Homo sapiens: one gene and its partners. The protein of the gene in region 4 purifies or fractionates together with the protein of the main gene of each other region. This does not show direct contact. Each region holds a gene or a part of one and is shown on either strand. Other genes may lie near its edges.

The links. The genes of interacting proteins can lie anywhere in the genome.
Region 1: the proteins of RLIM (region 4) and PHGDH purify together in Homo sapiens (affinity purification with mass spectrometry, with the first as the bait; one study listed by BioGRID). This does not show direct contact.
Region 2: the proteins of RLIM (region 4) and MYO1C purify together in Homo sapiens (affinity purification with mass spectrometry, with the first as the bait; one study listed by BioGRID). This does not show direct contact.
Region 3: the proteins of RLIM (region 4) and TRIOBP purify together in Homo sapiens (affinity purification with mass spectrometry, with the first as the bait; one study listed by BioGRID). This does not show direct contact.

What each region holds. Positions count from the first base shown.
Region 1 is NC_000001.11:119,718,434-119,721,933, reverse strand, and holds part of PHGDH (D-3-phosphoglycerate dehydrogenase), read right to left. Parts: intron 2,057-3,500; exon of another isoform or gene 2,042-2,056; coding exon of another isoform or gene 2,015-2,041; intron 765-2,014; coding exon 613-764; intron 1-612. UniProt on the Homo sapiens protein: Catalyzes the reversible oxidation of 3-phospho-D-glycerate to 3-phosphonooxypyruvate, the first step of the phosphorylated L-serine biosynthesis pathway.
Region 2 is NC_000017.11:1,479,187-1,482,686, forward strand, and holds part of MYO1C (unconventional myosin-Ic), read right to left. Parts: intron 3,373-3,500; coding exon 3,292-3,372; intron 1,700-3,291; coding exon 1,520-1,699; intron 1,440-1,519; coding exon 1,341-1,439; intron 520-1,340; coding exon 406-519; intron 317-405; coding exon 245-316; intron 1-244.
Region 3 is NC_000022.11:37,700,048-37,703,547, reverse strand, and holds part of TRIOBP (TRIO and F-actin-binding protein), read right to left. Parts: intron 2,243-3,500; 5' UTR 2,183-2,242; coding exon 2,069-2,182; intron 1-2,068.
Region 4 is NC_000023.11:74,583,625-74,587,124, forward strand, and holds part of RLIM (E3 ubiquitin-protein ligase RLIM), read right to left. Parts: 3' UTR 1-3,500. UniProt on the Homo sapiens protein: E3 ubiquitin-protein ligase.

The DNA of each region.
Region 1 (3,500 bases), on a different chromosome or scaffold from region 4:
GGCGTGCTGATGACCTCTGCCCCTGTGTTTCTGCAGAAACAGCTTTAAATGGGACCCTTCTCCTCTTGCCCTAGAGCACTGAAAGAGAAACTAGTGTCTTAGTTCCAGAAGGTGGCAGGGAAGTGGGGAGGGCAAGGATTCTAGTCATTAGTCTGCTAGCAAAGGTTGTGCCTCTGTACAAGCACAGTAAAGTAGAGCTGACAAAAACCTGCCACAAACAGCATTAATAGAGGCAGAGGGGGCTGGGTGGGAGCAGGAAATGCAGATGAACTCACTGACCTTCCGATTCCTGAACCAGGTCACAGAGGTGCAAGCAACTGCGCATGGGGTGGGCTCGTGAAACATTTTGAGATTATGCAGGGACTCTCAATTTCAAAAACTGTGTAACACCCTGATGGCATTGGTGATATAGTGGTGAGCATAGCTGCCTTCCAAAAACCTTGAAACCACTATGCTGTGTGTGTTGACCATGCAGGCCCTAGACCAGGCATCCTCCTGGAAGCCCTTCCAATGGACTCAGCTTTCTCTCAAGTGAGTTTTTTCTCCCTAGGTGTGGTCAGTCTCCGCACTCACCCCCCTACCCCCAAACCGCCCGCAGCCTCCATGACTTACTTCATAACCAAGATGCCCTTCCTTGTTGCGGCCTCCAGATCCACATTGTCCACACCTGTGCCAGCCCTGCCCACCACCTGGAGTTTCTCAGCTGCGTTGATGACATCAGCGGTCACCTTGGTGGCAGAGCGAACAATAAGGCCTTCACAGTCCTGAAGCAGAAAAAACATTTGGGTCCAGAAAGTCATTCTGTGAGAACTCGTAAAGCCGCAGGCACATCATTGCTTACTCCTGAGTAAGAGATGCATTTCCGGAACCTTAGGAAGTCACTGATGACTGCCAGTTCATAGATATCTTTGGTATACTCACTAGGGAAATGTGGGCTAGGACTCATGCTGATTTTTACTTAGAGTGGAGGAGACTGTGCCTCTAACACACCAACCGCTTTGTTTGGCATGCTCAAGAAAGGGCAGCATTGGCCCATGGGCTCTGGGCACCTGGCTCATCTCTCTAGACAGCACCATGATGCCTGCAGCCTGGATGTCCATCAGACACATGCTGGAAGTCAGGGGCCATCTCCTGTTCCTCTCTGTATACCCTATCATTCCTGCACATTGCTTGCTCAAAATGGGAGTTCCTGCCTGCTGGCTGATTTTGATATATCCAAAGAAAGAAAGGCAATGTCATCTGTCCACACATCTGATAGGTTCTGCCATTGGTCAGGCCTGGGTTCAAATCCAAGGCCCCTGCCTTCCAAGCTATGAATCAGCTTCGGCCTTCTCAAGTGTGTGAGGAACAAGCGAGAGAGAACAGGCACAGCACCTAGCACAGTATCTGGCGACGCTTAATGAACATCACTACCTCCATTAGACACTGAGCTACTGAGGGCAGAGGTGGGATCAAATTCTACTTTGTAAGCCCCTGTCCCTGATACAGGGAAGGCACTCAATAAATGTTGGTTGGCCGAATGAGTAAATAATGAATGAAACGAATGTTGAAAGAAAAACATTTCCTAAAAGAGAGACCAAAGGAAGAGGGGCAGGGGAAAAATGAGAGCAATTAAATTCATCTAGACTTGCTCAGACACCCAGGCAATATTAGACTAAAAATATACATATGCAAAAAATAAGACACTGAATTCATCATAGCCACTATACGTGAGCTAAGTCAGATCCCCAAGACAATCTTCCTTATGCTCACCCAGAATCCTGTGGTATGTGGTTCTTTCCAGAATAAGAATATTCTTGCTCAAACACAGAATGAGAATCCCTAAGAAATGGGGCAGGTGAGCAAGTCCACACTCTGTCCCAAAGTGGCAGACACCAGGCCGGTAAGAAAGCAGCAAGTATGCTTTCAAAAGCACCAAGCTGGGAACCAGGAAGACAGAGTTCTAATCCTAGGTCTGCCAACAATGTGTGGGTCACTGCGGTAATTCACCTCACTCTATACCCCTAGTCTCTACCTGTAAAATAAAAGAGATGGAGCACATGGCTCCTCAGATCCATTTTCCCCGTAGAGCTCTCAGCTGGATCCCATGAAAACCTTCTTTTACCTTCATTCCCACTGCATGGATTCTGGAGATAGAGAAAGGTCATGAGAAGTTGGCTTCTAGGGTAAGGGCCCACACTGTGTTTGTTGTGCACGAGCCTAGAGCATAGGAGCAAATATGGACAAAGTAAATGTAAGGAGAGCAGTGGGTAATTTTATCTCCACTAAGAAGAGAAGAGGAATGATGCTTAGGCTGCAGCATAGAATATTTAAGCCTTAAGAGCTTCTAAACACTGGAAGAATTGTTCAAGAGCAATAGTAGAACGATTCCTCTGGAGGTGTTTATGCATCACACATCCTCACTGCTTGGGGGCTGTGCCTACCAGCAGAGAGAAACATGCAGGCGGCCTGGAAGACACTCCAAATCCTTTTATGTCTGAGGTTCTGAAGCAGAACGTCAGAGTGGGAGATTTGAAGAAATGTTCACCAGCATCTGGTCCAACTCCATTTTACAGAGGAAAAACTGAAGCCCAACAAAGTTAAGCCTGCCTACTTTCCCTTCCCCTCCCCTGTACTTTTCTTCCTTCATTTTATCGGATGCCCGCTATGTACGTATCTGGCATTATGCTAAACTGATTATGACCTGGGTGTATACAAGTCACATGGGCACCCAGGGCTTAGAGGAATCAAACAGAAGCCACCTCAGTGCTGACTGCCCCAGTGCTGAGGCCAACACCAGGTGAGCACCTGGAGGTATTCTGATTTCCCCCCATAGCAGCCTAGTTAAATATCAGCCAAGCCAGGCAGAAACAGGATACTGGCATCTTTTCCACATTCAAGTCCACCACACAGGCTCCAAAGAAAAGGATTTCCCTGCCTGGACACACTTTACTGACTTTTCAAGGTGCAATAAAGTTATCTTCCAGGAAACATTTGCCAACAACCCTGAACTGTCACTCTCCCTACACCCCACCATTTTTGTTGTGATCACCAATATAATATGTTTCATATCTAGTTGTCCTCTCTTAGACCTGCAGTTTTGGTCTCCTTAGTTATATTTTCTATGCCTAATGCAGGGATTTTATATTAAAACTTTATCTACTCTATACCATATATCCATAGTACCAGCCTCACCAGCACATAAACCATTTATTGAGCACCTGCTGGGTACTAGGCATTACACCAGTTGCTTTACATTATTCTCTTCACAACTCCAAGGAGAAGGGGTATAATCATCCCCAGTTTCCAGATAAAGAAACAGAGGCTTTGAGAGGTAACCTGCCCAAGGTCACTCTTACAGATCAAAAACCAGCCAAGAACTGGAAAGTCATTGCCACTGGCTAACTCTGAGACTGTAACTGAAGAAGAGTTGGTAGACCTGCCAAGATGTCAAGAAGATAGGGCCAGAGCCAAGGCCATGGCCAGTTAGGTGCAAAAACCAAACTGTAAAATCCCTTGGA
Region 2 (3,500 bases), on a different chromosome or scaffold from region 4:
TTCACCATGTTGGCCAAGATGGTCTCGAACTCCTGACCTCAGGTGACCTGCCCACCTCAGCCTCCCCAAGTGCTGGGGTTACAGGCGTGAGCCACGGCGCTCGGCTCTCACTCTGCTTCTCTGAGCAGCCTTCCTTCCATCCCTCCAGCATTGCTGAGGGAACCAGGCGAAGGGGAGTGATGGGAGTAGGGGCTGCCTTGGAACAGCTGCCCCTCCACACCCGAGGGCAAGGGCCCGGCCTCACCTCCTCCCCCTTGGCGATGATCTTCCTGTGTGTCAGGGCTTCTCGCAGCGTCGAGCCTTCCACGCTGAGGAGCTGCCAAGGGCAGGCGAGGACACGGTGAGGGTGCACCCCCAGCCCCCGCCCCCGCCGTCCTCCCGTCGCCCTCTGCCCGCCCCACTCACCCTGGTCAGATACTTGAGCTGGTTCTCGGTGGTGACCTGGGCATTGCTCTCCTCGTTGGCAGCAAAGTGGATGTTGCCCAAATGAAGGACGCTGGCCACGATGCTCAGCAGGTCCTGGGGGAGCAGGCCGGGGGCAGGAGGGGGTGAGAGGGGCCAGAGAGCCCCAAGAGGGCAACTAGCAGATGGCCATGCAGGGGTGGGTGGTGAAGTGTCGGAGAGAAGGGGCTGGAAGTGGGAATGGGTGTTAAAGGTGGAAGGTGATTCTGCGGGTGGGATGGGCACGGTGGCTGACGCCTGTAATCCCAGCACTTTGGGAGGCTGAGGCGGGAGGATCATCTGAGGTCAGGAGTTCGAGACCAGCCCAGCCAACATGGCAAAACCCCATCATTATTAAAAATACAAAAATTAGCCAGGTGTGGTGGCAGGTGTCTGTAATCCCAACTACTCAGGAGGCTGAGGCATGAGAATCACTTTAACCTGGAGGCAGAGGTTGCAGTGAACTGAGATCGCACCACTGCACTCCAGCCTGGGCGAAAGAGCGAGACTCCATCTCAAAAAAAAAAAAAAAAAAAAAAAAGGGATTACTGGCCCACGCCTGTAATCCCAGCACTTTGAGAGGCTGAGGCAGGCGGATCACCTGAGGTCGGGAGTTCGAGACCAGGCTGGCCAACATGGTGAAACTCCGTCTCTACTAAAACTACAAAAAATTAGCTGGGCGTGGTGGCGGGCGCCTGTAATCCCAGCTACTCGGGAGGCTGAGGCAGGAGAATTGCTTGAACCCAGGAGGCGGAGGTTGCAGTGAGCTGAGATTGCACCACTGCACTCCAGCCTGGGCAACAAGAATGAAACTCCGTCTCAAAAAATAAAAAACAAAAAAAAAAGGAGATTTTGGGGGTGTGACAGGAGGAAAGCGAGGGTCCCGGAAGAGGCCTCACCTCCACTTCATCCTCGGTGAAATCAATGACTGTCAGAGCCTTCCTGACGACCTTCCAGTCACTCTTGTCGTTGATGGAGGAGACTTTGGCACACTGGCCCTGGAGGAAGGGCACAGCTGGGTTGCCAGCCCTGGCACCAGATCCCTGGGTGGCACCTGCCCTCCCTGCCAGCCACTCACCTTCACCAGGTACAGGTAGCTCTGGGGGTTCCGTTCCAAGCCCAGCCTGCGAAGAGTCTCCTCCTCGCCCCCCTCCAGCAGCTGGTAGAAGATGTGGAAGTTCCGCTCCCCATGATTCTGGTGCACCACTCGTGACTTTTCCAGGAGGTAACTGAGGATGTGGCCACCCACGGGGGCACCCTGTGGGCAGGGCAGGGCATGAGGCCGGGTCACGGGGACTGGGAAAAGAGCCCACCTGCCCCTCTTCTCCCCTGCACTCCTGGGCTTTGGCAGCCAGACCTGGATGCCAATTCCAGCCCTGCCACTAGCTGCGTCGGCTCAGGCACGCCACCCACGCTGGACTCAGTTACTTCATCTAGGAAATGGGGAGATTCAACTCCAACGACCTGGCTGCTCCACCTGGATGCCTGACAGGTATCGCAAATTCAACAGGCCTGAAGCTCAACACCGGACCTTCTCCCTCTTCAAACAAGCTCCTGTTAGTGTCTGCCCTCCTTGGTCAGTGGTGACTACATCCTTCTCGTTGTTCAAGCCAAGGACTTGGCAGTCCTCCTGGAAGCCTGTGTTTCTCCAAACCCTACATCCAATCAGGCAGCTCATCCTGCTGCCTTAACCTTTAAAACATCCAGAATCCAATCACTGCTCGCCACTTCCACTGCACCACACTGGTCTGAGCCAATGTCACCTGTCACCTACATGATGACATCAGCCCCCTAACCGTTTTCCCTGCTTAGCCTGGTTCCCCTCCCATCTATTCGTCTACTCCCAATCTCCCAGTGAAGCAGCTAAAGTCATTTTTTTATTTTTTATTTTTGGAGACAGGGTCTTGCTTTCACCCAGGCTGGAGTGCAGTAGTGCAATCACAGTTCACTGCACCCTCGAACTCCCGGGTTCAAGCAATTCTCCTGCCTCAGCCTCCTGAGTAGCTGGGACAACAGGCACACACCACCGTGCCTGGCTAATTTTTGTATTTTCAGTAGAGGCAGGGTTTCACCATGTTGGCCAGGCTGGTCTTGAACTCCCGACCTCACGTGATCCACCTGCCCCAACCTCCCAAAGTGCTCAGATTACAGGCATGAGCCACCTCACCCAGCCCGATGACTCCCCTTCTACTCAGAGTTAAAAAAAAAAAAAAAAAGTTCTTGCAACAACCCAAAAGGGCCTGCACCGTTTGGCCTCTCTCTGTTCGCGGGCCCCTGCTCTCTTCTCTGGCCGCTGTGGCCTCCGTGCTGTCCTGGAACACTTCCAGCACCCTCGTATCTCAGGCCTTTGTCCTGGCTGTTCCGTTCCCGCTGCCTGGACAGGCACCTGCACAGCCTGCTCCTATCTCCATCAAGCCATTATTTTCTATTTTTTTTAGAGACAGGGTCTCACTCCGTAGCCCAAGCTGGAGTACAGTGGCATGATCATAGCTTAGGGTAACCTTGGACTCCTGGCCTCAAGTGATCCTCCTGCCTCAGCCTCCAGAGGAGCTGGGACAACAGACATGTGCCACCCTACCCAGCTGTCAAGCCTTTATTAAAATGCCACTTTCTCAGTGAGGCCTACCCTAATACGACCGCACCTGCCCCCCACTCCTTACTGCATTTTATTTTCTGCCACGGCCTCAATTTCCCTGTTTATTGTTTATCACCCTGGAAGGCAGGATTTTTGTTTGCTTTGTTTGACTGCTGGAATTGCAGCACCTGGAATAGTCCCTGGTACCCAGTAGGTGCTTCACACGTGTAGAGCCTACTGAATGGGAATCCTCACGACACACACATCCATGGTACCTTGAAGTCAAACTGCACATCCATGTACTTCCCGAACCTGCTGGAGTTATCGTTCCGGAGGGTCTTGGCATTTCCAAAGGCCTAGGAGTGGACAGGGGTATGAGGGACACCTGGCACTCTCCCCCTGCCCTCCCCACCCCGCCTTGTAGCTACTGCTGCCCCTCCCCTCCCGCACTGGGCTTCTCTCCCTGCCCCTCCCCTCCCCTCCC
Region 3 (3,500 bases), on a different chromosome or scaffold from region 4:
GGGCAACAGAACGAGACTCTGTCTCAAAAAAAAAAAAAAAAAAAGAGGACCTTCAGACCCCAATGGGAATGACGAAGCCATGGTGGTCAAGGTTGGAAGGGCCCTCGGAGGTTCGTGAGTCCCAGGTTTCTCATTGCGTGTGTATCAGGTGCTCTGTGTTTACATGCATGGGGGCTTGGCAGCAGACTACATCAATCACAAAGTCAGAAAAGGACTCTTCTTCACTCCTTCAATAACTTGAAGAAGAAAATCTCGGCCAGGCGCGGTGGCTCACACCTGTAATCCCAGCACTTTGGGAAGCCGAGGCAGACAGATCACAAGGTCAGGAGTTCGAGACCAGACTGACCAACATGGTGAAACCCTGTCTCTACTAAAGATACAAAAATTAGCTGGGCATGGTGGTGGGCACCTGTAATCCCAGGTACTCAGGAGGCTGAGGCAGGAGAATTGCTTGAACCCAGGAGACGGAGGTTGCAGTGAGCTGAGATTGAGCCACTGAACTCTAGCCTGGCGACAGAGAGAGACTCCGTCTCAAATGAAAAAAAAAGAAAGAAAAAAAAGGATTCTTCTTCACTCCTTCAATAACTTGAAGAAGAAAATCTTGAGACCAGGTGCAGTGTCTCACACCTGTAATCCCTGCAGTTACAGAGGTTGAGGTGGGAGGATCACCTGAGCCCAGGAATTTGAGACCAGCCCTGGCAACATAGTGAGATCCCATCTTTACAAGAAAATTAGCTGGCCATGGTGGCATGTGCCTGTAGTCCCTGCTACTCAGGAGGCCAAGGTGGGAAGATCATTTGAGCCTGGGAGGTCGAGGCTACAGTGAGCCATGTACTATAGGTTGGACCACTGCACTCCAGCCTGTGCTACAGAGCAAGACCCTATCTCCAAAAAAAAAAAAAAAAAAAAAAAAGAGAGAGAGAAAGAAAATCTCTAGATGATGCTGGTGTATTCTTAACATCTCTCTAACATCTGCTAATCTCCCTTTTTGACAAAGAGACAGCAGGATGCAAGCTCAGAGCCTTCCATAGAAAACACTCTCGAGGCCAGGCGCGGTGGCTCACGCCTGTAATCCCAACACTTTGGGAGGCTGAGGCGGGTGGATCACCTGAGGTCAGGAGTTTAAGACCAGCCTGGCCAATATGGCGAAACCCCGTTTCTACTAAAAATACAAAAATTAGCTGGGCATGGTGGCAGGCACCTGTAATCCCAATACTTGGGAGGCTGAGGCGGGAGGATCGCTTGAACCTAGGAGGCAGAGATTGCAGTGAGCTGAGATCACACCATTGCCATTGCACTCTAGCCCAGGCGACAGAGTGAGACTCTGTCTCAAAAAAAAGAAAAAGAAAAAGAAAACACTCTCAAGTTAGGGTGTAACGACATTTCTGTTTTGTTTTTTCTTTTTCTACCTTTCTTCTCTTTTTTGTTTTGTTTTGTTTTGTTTTTTGAGACAGTTTCATTCTGTTGCCCAGGCTGGAGTGCAATGGCGCGATCTCGGCTCACCACAATCTCCGCCTCCCAGGTTCAAGTGATTCTCCTGCCTCAGCCTCCCAAGTAGCTGGGATTACAGGCATGCACCACCATGCCCAGCTAATTTTCACCATGTTGGCCAGGCTGGTTTCAAACTCCCGACCTCGGGTGATCCACCCACCTCGGCCTCCCAAAGTGCTGGGATTACAGGCGTGAGCCACCGTGCCCAGCCTCTACCTTTCTTCTTAACCTCTTCTTCTTAACAGGAAGTAATTCTAGTTTTCTACTTGTGTTGATGATGTGAAGTTTTGTTTCAATAGAAGGGGAAAAAGATGTTGATTTAAAGAATAACAAAGTAAGTAACAGATTAGATAAGGCTATGGTAACAATCGTATCATATAAGCAGGAGGAAAGTGACTGAAGATTGTGAAACATTCACATGGTTCAACCACTTCCCTGCAATGTGGGAAAACCGAGGCTCTCGACAGGAGGAAGTCCAGCATCTGGGTTCAACTGCGAGTTAGCGGACACCACAGGCCCAGTCCTTCACCCATGCCCCCATCACAAACCACCCCAACCACGTGGAAAACTGGCCCACCTGGTATCTTGCTCCATGGGCCTCCTCAGGGTGGAAGCAGTTTTGACAGCGGTTCTGGGTAAGTATGTTGGCCTCAAAGTGTTCACACAGGGCATCCCCAGGCACCTCCTCCATATTGGGTGAGTCAGGCCAGGGCAGTTCCTATGATCCAATGGCTGACCGTCTATGTGAGGCCTGGCAAAAATGAGGGGGAGGCAAAGACCAGATGACTGGCTGGCCACTCACCTGAACCCCAGCCCCAGTTGCCCCAGTTTCCAGACAAGGACCAAGGAAATAAGGTTACTCATCCATTCCTTTGGGTTCCTGTTCTCCATCCATTCCTGTTCATTTATTCACTCAACAAACACTCACTAAGCACCTACTAAGCACCAGGCACTCTGCCAGCATTTGATGTGCGATTTCTAGTCCTTACTGCAGTGTTGCTGAAAGTGCACGCCAAGGACTCTGCATTACACCCTCCTGGGCTGTTCATAAAAATGCAGATACCAGGCCAGGCACAGTGGCTGATGCCTGTAATCCCAGCACTTTGGGAGGCCGAGGTGGGCCGATCACTTGAGGTCAGGAGTTCGAGACCAGCCTGGCCAATATGGTAAAACCCTGTCTCTACTAAAAATACAAAAATCAGCCAAGTGTGATGGCACGTGCCTGTAATCCCAGCTACTTGGGAGCCTGAGGCAGGAGAATGGCTTGAACCCAGGAGGCGGAGGTTGCAGTGAGCCAAGATTGCGCCATTGCACTCCAGCCTGGGCGACAGAGTGAGACTTCATCTCAAAACAAAAAACAAAAAAATGCAGATTCCAGCTGGGCCCATTGCGGGCGGCGGATCATTTGAGCCCAAGAGTTCAAGACCATCCTGGGCAACTGGCGAAACTCCGTCTCTACAAAAAATACAAAAATTAGCTGGGCAAGGTGGTGCAGGCCTGTGGTCCCTGCTACTCAGGAGGCTGAAGTTGGGAGGATCACCTGAGTCTGGGAGGTCGAGGCTGCAGTGAGCCATGACTGTGCCACTGCACTGAGAAAAAAAAAAAGCAGATTTCAGCTGGGTAAGATGGTGTGCACCTGCAGTCCAAGCTACTCGGGAGGCAGAGGTGGGAGGATCTCTTGAGCCCAGGAGTTTGAGGTGGTAGTGTGCTATAACTGCACCTGTGAATAGTTACAGCACTCCAGCCTAGGCAACATAGCAAGACCACATCTCAAAAAAAAAAAAAAAAAATCTAGATTCCCCTTTCTCTCTCCCAATTCACACAGTTAGAATCTCCAAGAGACTGAGGTCTGGGGCTGTGCATGTTAAAGAAGTGATTCCAGCCGAGGGCGGTGGCTCACGCCTGTAATCCCAGCACTTTGGGAGGCTGAGGCAGGCAGATCACTTGAGGCCAGGAGTTCAAGACCAGCCTGGCCAACATGGTGAAACCCCGCCTCTACTAAATACAAA
Region 4 (3,500 bases):
CAAGGTACACTTAAACTGCTAAAATGATAGTTCATGTTATTCATAGTGCTAAGGTGTATCTGGTAATGCCCAGTGCTTTACTGAATTTACAGTATATTACCATTAATCCTCCAAAAAACAAAAAAACAAAAAACAATTTGCGGCCGGGCGTGGTGGCTCACGCCTGTAATACCACCACTGTGGGAGGCCGAGACGGGCAGATCATGGGATCAGGGGTTCAAGACCAGCCTGGCCAACATGGTGAAACCCTGTCTCTACTAAAAATAGAAAAATTAGCTGGGCGTGGTGGCGGGCGCCTGTAATCCCAGCTACTCGGGAGGCTGAGGCAGGAGAATCGTTTGAACCCAGAGGCAGAGGTTGCAGTGAGCCAAGATCGCACCATTGCACTCCAGCCTGGGCGACAGGGCGAGAATCCATCTCAAACAAACAAAAAAATAAACAAAAACCAATTTGGCCTTTTTTTTTCTTGGCAAACCAGCCAAAACTGATGTTTTTCCTAAGAAATCACACCTCATAAGCAATCTAGTCTAGGGCTTGGGATAAATACTAAGAAACAAATTAGAAGTCATATAGTAGTGGGATTAAGAGCACAAGGAAGATGACTGCATCAAAGATGATTGCAAATAATCTGCTACTTACTATGTGACCTGGGCAAATTACCAAACATCTGTATCTCAGCTGCATTACCTATAAAATGGGTGGTATACTTTCACCTCACAGTCACTGTGATGATTAAATAATTTATATAGAATACTTAATACAATGCCTGACAGCAACCAGAAAAGTTTAGCTAATTTAATTATAGTTAGTAATCCATGCAAGGCCTTATAGTTAAATCTTGTCTAAATTCAAAGACCTCAAAGAAACTGGACCCTTGCTTTCTTATTTTTTAAAATGACCATTAAGAGTTCAGTTTATAATCCACCCAGATTTATCGAATCCTTTCTTCTAGGTATCTGGGGGTTTTTTTGAGACAAGGTTTTGCTCTGTAACCCAGGCTGGAGTGCATCAGCATGATCATGGCTCACTGCAGCCTTGACCTCCCGGGCTCAAGTGATTCTACCACCTCAGCCTCCCAAGTAGCTGGGACCACAGCTGTGTACCACCACACCTGGCTAATTTATGTCTGGATCCTTTTCACTGACCTAAGATGCCTGTGCTTTGGCTTCATTGTCTAGAGCACTAACTTTTTGATGGTGGTATTGAGTTTCAAATAATAAAATCATGAATGACACTAAACTTAAAACCTTGGGAAGGTCATGAGTTGAAGAGCTGACTACATCAAAACTATCCTGAGAAACCGAGTTATGATGCCAATGACAGATAGCTCTGCAGGCACCAGAGGAAATGAAACTATAATACAATACACCAGGTGTCACAATGTGACGATTTACTTGAAACAAGGACATCTTAGTGGCTTAAGCAATATGTTTAAGAGATTAAGATAGAAATGGAAGACAGAAGTACAAGCACACGTGCACACCTACAAGTTTTTGTATATATACAGGGCAAGCAAGGGAGTGGTCAGAGCAATGGCGAGAATACAAGAAACAGCAAAGATGCGCCTACTTAAAATGTCATTCACATAAATCTTTCCAGGATTCTTGTATTGGAATATAATCTTTTATTTTACCACTCAACGATTAAGCCATTCAACTACACAACACAGATAAAACGGAAGTTATAACATATAAACCAGTACCTGCCCACACTCATAGCAGTGAGGGGAATAAAAATCAAGGTTGCACTGTAATTCCATGACTCTAAAAATCAAGTCTATTTGACATTGGTTTGAAGCAACAGAACCTTTATAGCAGATTCCCCTTTTTAAAGAAAAACCCAAGGAGAGATGATCAAGCACAAATGATCACTTCATGCATTTTATTGATAGTCTATATTTTAAATCTGCAGTATGACATCTTACATAGGGAAAAAAGCTTCTTCCTAAAAGATAACTATTAATAATCAAACCAGCTTTAATATGATTGACCTTTCAAGGTCTTGTTTTGCTTTAAACAAGTTAACTTTTAGCAGTTGTAAAGCACTGTACAAAAGAAAACTGTGTACATTCTCAAAATTTAATACAGGGCTTCCCAACCAGGAGTCTGCTGGATAGGTATCGGAGAAGGGTGTTATGTTCAGGTTTAAATTGAAAGAAAATGAGAAACCAGATAAAGCAAGCCAACCAAATTAACTTCACTTTGTGCTCCTCTCTGCTTTTTTGAGTCTCTCCCGAAGGTCAGGAAGCCCTGGTATAACAATCACTTTAGTCTTTACAGAACATACATCTATGTGCTTTGTGACCAAAGACATAAAGGCAGCCTTTGTTACTGTTCCCCCTCCAAACCCCTTCAGGTTCTTATAAGCTTCAGAAAGCTTTCCAAGATTGCTGCCCTGTTCTTTGTATGAATCCAAGTAAACAACTATACCAAAGCAGCTCTTCCTGGGAGAAGATAAAACAGGCACAGATACATCACCAGGCCAACTGCGTACCTACTCAACTTGATACCTGATCACATGGCCCTACATCCTTAAAAGCAGCACCAGGGACAAATGGAGCTATCAAGAGGTAAAATCCAAACACTGGACAGTTAAAACACATACAAACCAGTTAAAAGAACATTAGTAATGGGGCACTAAATAGAGTTAAGGCTGGACAGCTGGTTCAACCATACCTTGGTATTGAAATAATTCTGCAAGATGAGGAACTTACAGAGGAACCTTGAAAGAGGCACCATGATATGACAGGGTTCACTTTCACTGCATGTCTTTAAGATATCTACTACTCAGCCCAACTGACCATAAAGCAGCTCGTGGAACTTTAATAAACAAATCCTAATAAAAATAAATAATTTTTAGAATGTTGGAGGGTATGCCTATTTCCTTCAGATCTGATCAAGACATGAGAATTATAAAACCGATACAAACTGTTCTGTGATTATCACTTGACAGTTCTAACACTGTTATACAGCTCAATTCTATGCTGCAGCCTTTAAGATACAAACTGGGGTTACATGAGATCACTCACTTGTTAGAGAAGTATCAGATAAATTTTAGAACTGTTCCAGTTAAGGAAAATAATTCTTAATTTCATAATCCTAAAACTTTTTCTAAAAATTTTTGCAGGGCAGGTACTTAACTCATAGCTGTTTTAGTTGATTAAAAAATCTGATTTAAAAATAAGTAAGGCTGGGCGCAGTGGCTCACGCCTATAATCCCAGCACTTTGGGAGAATGAGGCAGGCAAATTGCCTGAGCCCAGGAGTTCAAGAACAGCCTGGACAACATGGCGAAACCCCATCTCCACAAAAAATTAGCCAGGCAATGTGGTGCATGCCTGTAGTCCCAGCTACTTGGAAGGCTGAGGTGGGAGAATCACCTGAGCCCAGGAAGTCAAGGCTGCAGTGAGCTGTGACCATGCCACTGCACTCCAGCCTGGGTGACAGAGCAAGACCCTGTCTCAAAAAGTAAAAAATAAAATAAAATAAAAATAAATAAGTG